Homo sapiens: one gene and its partners. The protein of the gene in region 2 purifies or fractionates together with the protein of the main gene of each other region. This does not show direct contact. Each region holds a gene or a part of one and is shown on either strand. Other genes may lie near its edges.

The links.
Region 1: the proteins of ENPEP (region 2) and L1CAM fractionate together in Homo sapiens (co-fractionation; one large-scale study listed by BioGRID). This does not show direct contact.
Region 3: the proteins of ENPEP (region 2) and PLXNA2 fractionate together in Homo sapiens (co-fractionation; one large-scale study listed by BioGRID). This does not show direct contact.

The regions. Positions count from the first base shown.
Region 1 is NC_000023.11:153,876,081-153,879,733, reverse strand, and holds part of L1CAM (neural cell adhesion molecule L1 isoform 1 precursor), read left to right. Parts: intron 1-3,653. UniProt on the Homo sapiens protein: Neural cell adhesion molecule involved in the dynamics of cell adhesion and in the generation of transmembrane signals at tyrosine kinase receptors.
Region 2 is NC_000004.12:110,552,631-110,556,283, forward strand, and holds part of ENPEP (glutamyl aminopeptidase), read left to right. Parts: intron 1-684; coding exon 685-825; intron 826-1,721; coding exon of another isoform or gene 1,722-1,767; exon of another isoform or gene 1,768-2,288; intron 2,289-3,653. UniProt on the Homo sapiens protein: Regulates central hypertension through its calcium-modulated preference to cleave N-terminal acidic residues from peptides such as angiotensin II.
Region 3 is NC_000001.11:208,038,324-208,041,976, forward strand, and holds part of PLXNA2 (plexin-A2 precursor), read right to left. Parts: intron 1,736-3,653; coding exon 1,669-1,735; intron 1,445-1,668; coding exon 1,298-1,444; intron 662-1,297; coding exon 502-661; intron 152-501; coding exon 48-151; intron 1-47. UniProt on the Homo sapiens protein: Coreceptor for SEMA3A and SEMA6A. Necessary for signaling by SEMA6A and class 3 semaphorins and subsequent remodeling of the cytoskeleton. Plays a role in axon guidance, invasive growth and cell migration.

The DNA of each region.
Region 1 (3,653 bases), on a different chromosome or scaffold from region 2:
CATGGGTCAGCCAGCAGTGTGCCATTCATCCTGTCTCACGGCCGTCCCTTGCCCAGTGCCACAAGTGGGCAGGGCCTTGATGCTCTGTTGCGTGGGGCTTTGTAGGCCCCTCCGGCCCCAGCTCACAGCTGCTCCACCCTCTGTCTGTCTCTCTACCCTGCTCCCAGGCCAGCGTGACGTCCACGCCGGGAAGCCCCTCCACTGACCCAGGCCCATCTTCCCTCCTCCCCGCCCCTTGCCTGGCACAGCCCCCAGGGACAAGGACGCTGTGCAGGCGGCCTGCGCGCACGCGCACGTGCACACGCCCACCCCCACCCCTCACTCTTCTCGCTCTTTCTGCCATTTCTCAGCGGCGCACTCTGCAGCTGCCTCTCACCCTTTGTGCTCCGGTTTCCTCTTCTCTCCCTTTCTCTGCTGCCTGGGTCTCCGTTTCGGAATTTCCCCACCCCCTAACCATCTCCATCGTGGTTAGCGCTGTCTTCCTACGTCTGTCTTTGTCTCCTGCTCCCCCCTGCCTCTTCTCACTCTGTCTGTCACCCTTGGCAGACCCGGCCTTGGCTCCATCTGTGGAACACTCCCCCCTCCCCGCTCCTTTGCCCTTAGTGGTGCTGGTGGGGGGTAGAGGGCCTGCTGAGCTGACAACCCTAGCTGCTTGCTCTGTAATTGCCTGAGGAATGGTGAGAGATCAGAGACCCAGCAGCAGTGGGAGGAGAGGAGGGAGCGCCCCCTCCCAGCTGTTATATCTCGCAACCTTCTGGCTGCTTCCTGCCTGTCTCCGACTGCCCAGGGCGGTGGCAAGCTAGGTGGCAAATACTGGGAGACCAAAAAAGAAGTTGGATATGAGCCTGTGGGGAGATGGGATGGGGCTGGGATGGGGCAGGGAGCGGGGACCAGGGGTTTGGGGATATTGTATTTCCCCTGAGCGTACATGCCAAACACCATTCCAGGATTCTAGATTTGGAGGACAAATAGAGGAACTTGCGTGGCAGAAATTATCGACCTCCAGAGCACCCAAAAGCCTCTGACATGCAGGAGGGTCCTTCTTTGAGCTTTTCCTTGCTCCGGTTTCCTCCCCTCCCCCTCCTAAGACCAGTGCTCAGAGCTCCCAAGGCTGCTGTTTGATCATCTGCTCTCTGATCCGAGTCTCCTACTGCTCCTACAGGCCTTGAAGTTGAGGCCAGTGCTGCCTGGGGCCTCCCCTGATCCACTGGCTTTGTAGGGAGAGGCCGGGGTGGAACAGATCCACTGTTGCTCTTCCCTTCTGGGCCCAGGTCCAGCTCTTGCAGGCTGGGAATCACTCTTCTTACCCTCCAAGTCATCTCTTGGCCTCCAGGCCATGCACGCTGACCCACCCTGCTGCTTCTCCACCACCCTCTGCAGCAAGCTCTTGCCCAGAGTCCCCACGGGATCTGCCGCATTCACAGCTCTTCTTGGGTCACTCTGTTACACAAAACTGACAAGGCCCAGAGCCTTAGCACAGCATGGCTGACTTCTCTACCATCCTTTCGGTGTTCCTGCTGAGGCTCGGTGCCCGCTTTGATAAGGTCCTGGCTGGGCAGAGGGAGGATGCACAGTATGGATTTAATGAAGGCGTCTAGTCTGGGACTTCAGCCTCCAAGCTCTGTCACCTAACAACACCCTTTCTTGCCTTGCCTGCACTTTAACCACTTCCTGTTTGGAATTGAAGTGGTCTGGCCACTTGGGAGTCTGTTTCCTCTTGTCATTGTCAGAGGAGCCCCCTCTTTCAGACCCTTAGTCTTTGGCTCCCCTTACTTGTAGGTGAATATGGACATGGCCGGTGTGGCTTGGGTTTGGGGTGGACACATGCAGCAGTTGAGCTCTGAAGACTCAGACAAAGACCTAGAAATTGGGACTTTGAGACACACAAGAAGTGTTAGAAACACTGTCACGGAAAATGTCCCAGAGCTTGTCCTGACCCCTGTCCTGACCCTAACCTGGAGCATCTGGAAGGGAGGAGGCCTCAGTGGCCTCTCTTGACCCCCAGGGGGCTGAGGAGCAGCAGGGGGTTGTTTTCCTCCTTCCTCTCTTCTCCCACACCAGTTCTCAAGGGAAGGCTTCCTTCCCCATTCTTTCTCTCTTTTTTTTGAGATGGAGTTTCGCTCTTGTTGCCCAGGCTGGAGTGCAATGGTGCGATCTTGGCTCACTGCAACTTCCGCCTCCTGGGTTCAAGAGATTCTCCTGCCTCAGCCTCCCAAGTAGCTGGGATTACAGGAATGCACCACCACGCCAGGCTAACTTTTTTTTTTTTTTTGAGACAGAGTCTTGCTCTGTCACCCAGGCTGGAGTACAATGGCGCAATCTCCGCTCACCGCAACCTCTGCCTCCTGGGTTCAAGTGATTCTCCTGCCTCAGCCTCCTGAGTAGCTGGGATTACAGGCATGAGCCACCACGCCTGGCTTTTTTTTTTTTTTTTTTTTTTTTTTTTGTATTTTTAGTAGAGACAGGATTTCACCATGTTGGCCAGGCTGGTCTCAAACTGCTGACCTCATGATCCGCCTGCCTCAGCCTCCCAAAGTGCTGGGATTACAGGCGTGAGCCACCACGCCCAGCCCTAATTTTGTATTTTTACTAGAGACAGGGTTTCACCATGTTGGCCTGGCTGGTTTTGAACTCCTGACTTCAGGTGATCCACCCACCTCGGCCTCCCAAAGTGCTGGGATTACAGGCATGAGCCACTGTGCCTGGCCTTTTATTTTTATTTTTATTTATTTTTTTAGACAGAGTCTCACTCCATCACCCAGGCTGGGGGGCAGTGGCACGATCTTGGCTCACTGCAACCTCCGCCTCTCAGGCTCAAGTGATTCTCATGCCTCAGCCTCCCAAGTAGCTGGCATTACAGGCGCCCACCACCAAGGCTAATTTTTTTTCTTTTTGTATTTTTAGTAGAGACGGGGTTCCGCCATGTTGGCCAGGCTGGTCTCAAACTCCCAACCTCAAGAGATCCACCCACCTCAGCCTCCCAAACTACTGGGATTACAGGCGTGAGCCACCACGCCTGGCCCTTTCCCCATTCTTTCTTCATTTTCCTGAAACTATTTTGTGAAATGCTGCCATCTTGGGCCCCTTTCCTCCCTTCTCTATCCCACTTCCCAATCCCCCCATTAGCTTTTTAGGTCTGTACAGCACCCAGGCATCAGTTGGCTCTGAAAGCTATAGCAATGTGACTGCAAGAAGAATTCTTCTCTACATGTGTGTGCACACAGAGATAATAGATACAGGGATTCATCCCCACAGATACATAAAGACATACAAGAAGACACACGTAGCTAGCAGACTTGTGTGTTGATTCCCTCAGGCACACACACTAACACACCCACTCATGAGTGCAACCCCTCCCAGAGAAGACACACCACAGAAATACCAGCTCACATACAGCTCACTCCCTGCTTGCAGATCCACAACCACACACATGCCCACGGACACCTGCACATGCAGACACATACGGGGATGTGCATGCCATGCACAGGGGAGCTGATGGGGCAACAAGTTGGTGCTGGGAAGGCAGCTGGCAGGAAAGGTGCAGACAGAGAGTAGAGAGGGAATAAAAGGCAACCTAGAGGCCCAGCCAGGGCTATCTCTTCCAGATTTCTCCCTCCAAGGTGGGGAGGGGTGCGGATGGGGAGGGGAGGGCT
Region 2 (3,653 bases):
GAACAAAATGTGTGCTGACCTTTTTTGGAAACACTTTTTCAATACAATATACACTTGTAAGATCTTGGGCTAGAAACGCTACTCTAGGTATAGCCATGGCATACAATTAAACCTATCCATTTAGTCATTTAATTTATCTTGTACTTATTTGTATTCTTAATTATTGCCAACTAATATAACCATATAGGTTACATTATAGGATTATTTCTTACAATCTAGGGAAGAGCAAACAACTGCTTTCCTATAGAATATAAGAGCATAGATACATTCTCTTAATTTACTGGCTTCTTTTAAAAATCCAGTGGGATAATGGGAAAGTGTGTGAAGTACTCTATTCAATAAATGCTGTTTTAAAATATTAATGGTTAAAATTAACATTTTAATTTTTAAATTAAAAACAATGTGTTTTAAAATTGTTTTTGGTGCTTCTAAAATAATTTAATTTTAAATGTTTTATAGTTTACATTCCACTAGTCTTTAAAATCATAGGTTGGTCTTTTAAAACAGTTAAACATATCAGAAAATTTTAAGTTGTCTTTCATCATTTGTCATATTTAATTAACTTTGTCAGTTGATACCTCAAGAATTGAATTGCTGGCATGAAAACTATTTTGTATTGGAATTTAGCTAAGGGTGAACATTAAAAGTTCACTTTGAATTGTTTTTCTGTTTGGCTTCTCTTAGGTATTTGGATTTGCTCAAGGACACGAACCTTATTAAAACTCAGGATGTGTTTACAGTCATTCGATATATCTCATATAACAGCTATGGGAAGAACATGGCCTGGAATTGGATACAACTCAACTGGGACTATCTAGTCAACAGGTGGGATGATCTGATGATGGTCTGCTGTTTTCTTTGTTTCATACTATCTACTGGTTCCTTCATTTTTCTTTGGGCCACTGTCTCTGACATCTATACAATATCTAAAATGGCATTATTAGAGGTAAAGGATCATGGTATTATCCTTCCAGGGAAGCAATGTACTAGTTAATTTTAAGAACAATTTTTTTCTGGAAATTATTGTTTCAACTGACCTATAGGATTCTGAGATCTGGAAGACTAAATTGCATTATTTTTAGTTTGGTTAAAACAAGTTAATACAATTCTGCCTGTTGTGCTAGTACCTAGCATAATGCCAGGCACATATTTAGTTCTCAATTAATGTTTGATTAAAGCTAGGTAAAAATTATTGGACCTGGGTTCAAATTAGAGTTCTATATCATACTGAGCTTATGTGGGTGATAACTATTACCTATCCTGACCAGATAATGAAATTTCAAGTATTTTGAATGTTTCTTAAAAGGGAATTATATTTCCTAGGCAATAGAACTTTTAAAATGGGAAATAGCAAGGACAAGAGCAAAATCAGTTAAAGAGATGCCTTTCCAAACTTCGTATTTCCTCAGGCCCGTGCAGAAGAAAGATTGCTGCTCTTGGTTCTGATACTCTAAATATAATGCACAATTTCCATCCAAAAGGCAGTTCTTTGATAGAGTACAAAATAGAATATAGAATAAACGTATGTCCCAAATAAACATATAAACATTGATGAAAAGACCTTTACCATCTGTAATCCCTACATTAGGAAATAGCCTGTGTTATCTCCTCTTAATCTCTCCTGTCAATCCAGCGGCACTGTCTCATTGATAATGACTGCCTTGTGAGAAATACCAACTCTAATTATAACTTTTAATTATTTTCTCTTTTCTACCCCACAGCTCACCAGAGTGCTATTATGTCCATTTACATTTCTTTTCCTGCTGAGATTCAGATTCTACCTCTAGCTCCCAACCAAAATACACTACATTGCTTCTGCCTGCTTGTGATAAATTTTTACCTTTTCTATTCTTGTAACTATTGAGTGTCACTGTTCACCCATCTCTATGAAGATTGGTTGGTGTGCATGTGAGTGTGTGTGTGTGTGTGCACGCACATATGTGCATTGTTCATCTTTTATGATTGTTTAAATGAAATGCTTAATTTAGAATGAATGAATATACCTATTAAGAATATGTTATTATCTAGATGTAACAGTTTATATCATGCAAGGTAATACCCTCCATTTTGAAAAATATATGGCTAGTGATAAATACTGCATATTTTGTTTTAGTTGAAAAGACCATACAACTATCTCTTTTTCTGTGGTGTATGGTGCAGGAAACCTATGTAGATGAAGCATAAAAGTTACTTTTGAGTTACTATGAAAAGACAAGTAAATAATGGTTTATTTTGCATAAAATGGCCATTAACTTATTGTTTATTGAATAAATATTTCTCAAGGCCTATTTGAGTAGCTATGCTGTGATTTATTTCAAATAATGCATTTTTCATTTTTAAAAATTAGTTGTTTCACTTCAGGAAAATTAAGAAGTAGAAAAAAATAGGTTTTGCCTTGTCATAAAATTCATAAGTGTCTGGCCTTAAAATAAATGTATTAGGCCTGGTAAATTGATTATTTTTCAAGATAAAAAAAGAAGATAAACTATTTCCAGAAGTACTCCAAAACTCTTGCCCAAGGCTTTAGCATTTCTTCATAATCTAATGATCTAATTCTCATGAGACATTATTTCAAATGGCCCCAAATGTAAAATTGCTAATAACCACATGTCTAATACACACAAACACCCAATATTAATTGTACTTGGCTTGAATAAACAGAACTTCCCTATGAAAATTGGATAATAAAAATTAAACAAAAATGAGCCAAACTTTATCCAAATAATCCCAAACACTTGAACATTTTCCAAATTTCAGGATGAATAGTTTTACTATCTCCATTTCTGAACAATTTATGGTCATCCTGAAATAAATAATCTTCTATTTAAATAAAGCTTTTGTCATGTGATTTTTATGACAACTGATGGCCACACTGCTAATGTCCTTGCCAGTTTGAGACTTAGCCACAAAGTCCCAAAGATACTTCAGAAATTATTCTTTGCTTTTGTTTCTTCCAATAAACTCTTAGATGAAACTGTGAAGTTGAGTTGACCCAATAATAAGGTGGTGTGATTTTAGTTTATGACAGTAGATGAAAAACTAAGTCATTAGGACATGATTGAAACCCTTCAAATACTACCTCATAAACCAAACAATTTAATAAGCACTTAAAAGTTTTGTGTGTATTAAAATTATTTCTTTGGATAACATAATAATACTTGTATAAATATTGAATCCAAGAAGACAATATTTGTAAATTTTTTTCAAATTATTTAAAATATAATTAAATCCTTATTTTAGTTTTTAAAAATAACCAATATGATAAGCATGCAGTATATTTTCCCTTATTTTCTATACTTTATATGATATTAGTTTCCTGGGGTGTACATATTTTGTTCTGGCATTTCTGGTATTTAAACAAGTAGTTGCAGTTTTCACTCAGCATATTCATTGCTAGTTTCTAAATATGTCCTTTAGACAAAACAGAAATAAATATTACAGAAATTATAGAAGGTCACTGAAAACATTGTTTTATTAGCTGCAATTAGCAGACTTTCTTTGAATCTATAGAATCTCATCAAAGCAACTCAGTGTGATTTGCTTTTTTAAATTCCTGTTTTCTTATTGTGAAACTGGTATGTGTTTTTTGCACAAAATGCATACAAACAAAAATAAGAGTACAAAAATTACCTGTAATGCAACCACCAAGAAAT
Region 3 (3,653 bases), on a different chromosome or scaffold from region 2:
GGGAACATTCTGGGAAGCTGAAGAGGGGAAAAGACACCCCCTCTCACCTGATAATGCATCAGTGTGTTGAGCCGCTTCCAGTCACCCTCAATCTTGGTGGTGATGTCCTCATCTTGCAGCACGACCCGGGCGATCCGGCCTTGGCGCCACTCTGGGTGGAGGGGGTGGTGCAGGGAGCGGCGTGAGAGGGATGAGGGCTGTGAGCCAGTGTCTCCCGATTGCACCTTCTCTAGGGACCTGGCAACCCGGCCCCCTCAAGCTGGTACCAATAACAGAGGCTAGAGACATCTAGGGCTCCATGGGCCCAGGCAGCAGAGGAAACACGTAGACCTCCCCAGAGACAGCCACATCTGAACAGGCAGCGCTCAAAGCGGGAAGCATTTCACACGGGCCTCAGCTGGCCAGGACACAGTCATGCCCCTGCAAGGGTTGTGTGCATGGCAGCTTCCCTTCCTTCACCTCTCAACCCCTGCCCTCACACTCTGAGTCCAGGTTTCCTACCCAAGTCCATGTCCACTGCCCTCGGCCGCTGGGAATAGGGCACATTCTTATACACGGCATCAAGAATCTTCTCCTTGACCTGTGTGATGGTGTCACAGTTTAACACCTTCACTGGGATCTCTGGACTGTTCTCGTTGTCAGGGTTGACGCAGTTCAGGATCTACAAGTAGGGGACAGAGGGTGAGCAGGACAGGAGTTGAAGGAGTAGTTTGAGGGAGAGGGTCAGGACCTCAGAATCTTCTTTTTCCAAAGTTCACCCTCCTTATAGGGGAAATAAGGGTACTTTTCTGGTCTGTGACTCAGTTTCCCTCACCTTCATAACATCTGCCAAATGAGAGTCTGAGTCATTGTGTCCAATTCTTCTTTCTCAAAGCACCAGGACTCTACTTTCTAGCTCCTGGACAGCTTAGGGGAGACTATAGTCCTGGAATGAGGCACCCTCAGTGTTTAGAGATGGCTCTACATGTATCAGAGACTAGTCATGCACTTCCCCAAAGCCTCTATGTTAGGAACCAACATACATCTTTCTCATAATACCAATTACCCAATAACTAATGATGGGTGAACTTTTTTCTCCCCCAATATTATCTAGGATAAACCGAGGCATAGAGTGCTTGGGATGGGTGGGCGGGCCTGCCACCTTGCTCTTGGTACACTTAGTTGTCCTTTGGGCTCACCCCAGACCAGCCTCCCATCCTCTTTATTGACCCCCTAGACTGCTTTTATGGACAGAAGGCAGAGCAAGGGGCAGAAGTAGAAGATACACAGGCGGGCCCGGAGCTTCCGGCTTCCTCACCAGGGTCTTGTACTCGATCTGCTGCCGGATGAGCTTGTCCTCGCTCAGGGAGTAGCGGGCCTCGCCCGTGATGGCATCAATGGGGCCCTTCTCCATCTGCTGCTTGATGGCACAGTATAGCATGAAGAGTGGCTCCCCTGCGCACTCCTGTGGGCACAGACAGGGCAGGAGGTGTGGGCACGGCCTCCTCAGGTTTGTACGTTTTCCCTTTCCTCTCTCGGAGCGAGGCCAGTGGAAGGAAGGGCTTTAGCACAGCCAGTCCAGGTTCCTGCTCCCGAGGGAGGGGGTCCCCATGCAGCCCTGTGGCCAGGATCTAAGCAGCAGTGCCATCCTGCCCTGGACGCTAGGCCCCGTCTCACTCCCTTTCTCACCTTTAGGAACTTGTGCAGGAGGAAGGCGAACCAATTGGTCAGCATCTTTTCAGCCACAGACTCTGTCCTGGGGAAGGGACAAAGGGTAAGGGGCAGTCCTTCACAGAGGGGTCTCCGTGGTGGGGCCTGGGCTTGCCATGAGGTCTCCCAAGAGAACAATGGAGCATGGGAGAACGCAGGGCGGGAGTCAGGACACCTGGGTCCCAGCCCAGCTCACCCAGTAACTAGACTGTGACCTGGGGGTAGGGGTGGCTTCTTTCTGGGCCTCAATTTCCTATGAAAATGGAGAGGTTGGCCTTTTCAGCCCTGATGGTCCGTGGTGCTCTGAACTTTGGCTGCATCTGAGACAGGGTCTGTGGATAAAGGCACCTCACTATCCCACAGGGCTATAAAGAACCGGTTCTCCCAACTCACTTCTGGCCTCAGGGTGATAACTAGAGAGTTTCCCAGTCCCTCTGGGCTTTCTTGCATGTGTGAGTACCCTGTTTTGCCTATCTGGAAGGTGCCTGGTCCCTTCCCCTCCAAAAACACTCAAGGTTAGACTTCCTTGGGTTCAAATCCTGATTCTGCCATACGTTGGCTGTGTGACCTTGGGCAAGTCATTTAACCTCTCTGGTTTCAGTATTCCTATCACTAAATGGAGACAGTCATAATAACATCCAACCCCAGTGGTTGTTGTCAGGGTTGAATGAGTTAATATTTGTAAAGTGCTAAGAAAAGTGCCTGGCACCTGCTAAGCACTATCCATTAGCTGTCATTATTGCTGTCATGTGGGGTCTTGGATCCCAGCCCTCAGGTAGAGAGCAGTGCTTAAGTGTTTTGCCAACAGGGGATTTGCTCATGCAAGGGCTGGCCCCCCTCCCCTTCCCATCCCAGGGCTACAGATCTGGGGATTTGGGAAGGAACAAAGCGGCTGTGACAGACCCTCAGTGAAGGGGATGCCGGAGGGGTATTTTAACTCCCTGCACGTGGTGCAAATTATATCCTCTGGTTGCAGTAAATCCCAGGCATTTGCCAGGGCTGCTCAGCAATCTGGGCCTGGGAGAGAGTGACAATGGCAGAAAAAATTGTAGCTTTCTCCCGTGGCTCCTCCCAGCACCCTCTCCCTGCATTGTGCTTGAGATTAGCTCTAATTTAAATACAACAGTTCTTAATGAGAGTTTCTAATGCTCAGATTGGCAGGATGGGGGCTCAGTACTCATAAAGCAAAGCCATTCTTCCTCCCTCCTCACCCCACGTGGGGCCTGGAAGCCTGAGACCTTGCTAGAGGAAGGCTAAAGAGGAGGGGTGGTGAACGGAGGTGCAGCCCTCCAGCCCCTGCTGCCCAGAGGACTCCAAAGCTGTGCCCGGCTCCCCACGGCCTCTAGAGAGGGTGGGCTCAGGGGATACTGAGGTCTCCAACCCTCTCCCCTGCCAGGAAAAATGCAGTGGGCATGTGTAGTGGATGCTGTGATTCAGATCCAGGAAGCTGAGCTCAGAAGGCACGGCCTTCTAGGCTGTCCAAATCCCTAGCTCAGTGCTGCGCAATAGAACCTTCTGCGATAATGGGAATGTTCTCTATCTGTGCGGTCCCGTATGGTGGCCACTAGCTGCAATGTGGCAACCAAGCACTTAGAAAGCGGCTAGGTGCTAGGGCAATGGAGGAGCTGGATTTTACATTCTATTTCATTTTAATTTGTAGCAGCTACCTGTGGCTAGGGGCCGCTGTGCCGGACAGCACAGCTCTAGAGGCACCGGGAGGAAGAGACTGTGAGATAGGAATTATTTTTCTCATTTTGTCTAGGAGGAAACTAAACAACAGAGTGGTTACAACACTGGCCAGAAATCACAGAGCTAGCAGGAGGCAGAGCTGGGACTCCAGCTGAGATCCGAGCAAGGGTCTGAGCTCATCCATCACACCTGGGTGACTTCAGACTCTGTAGTCTCCCTGGGCTGAGGGAAAGTCAGATTCTGCCCTGCAGAGACGTGAGGACACAGGCTGCTCT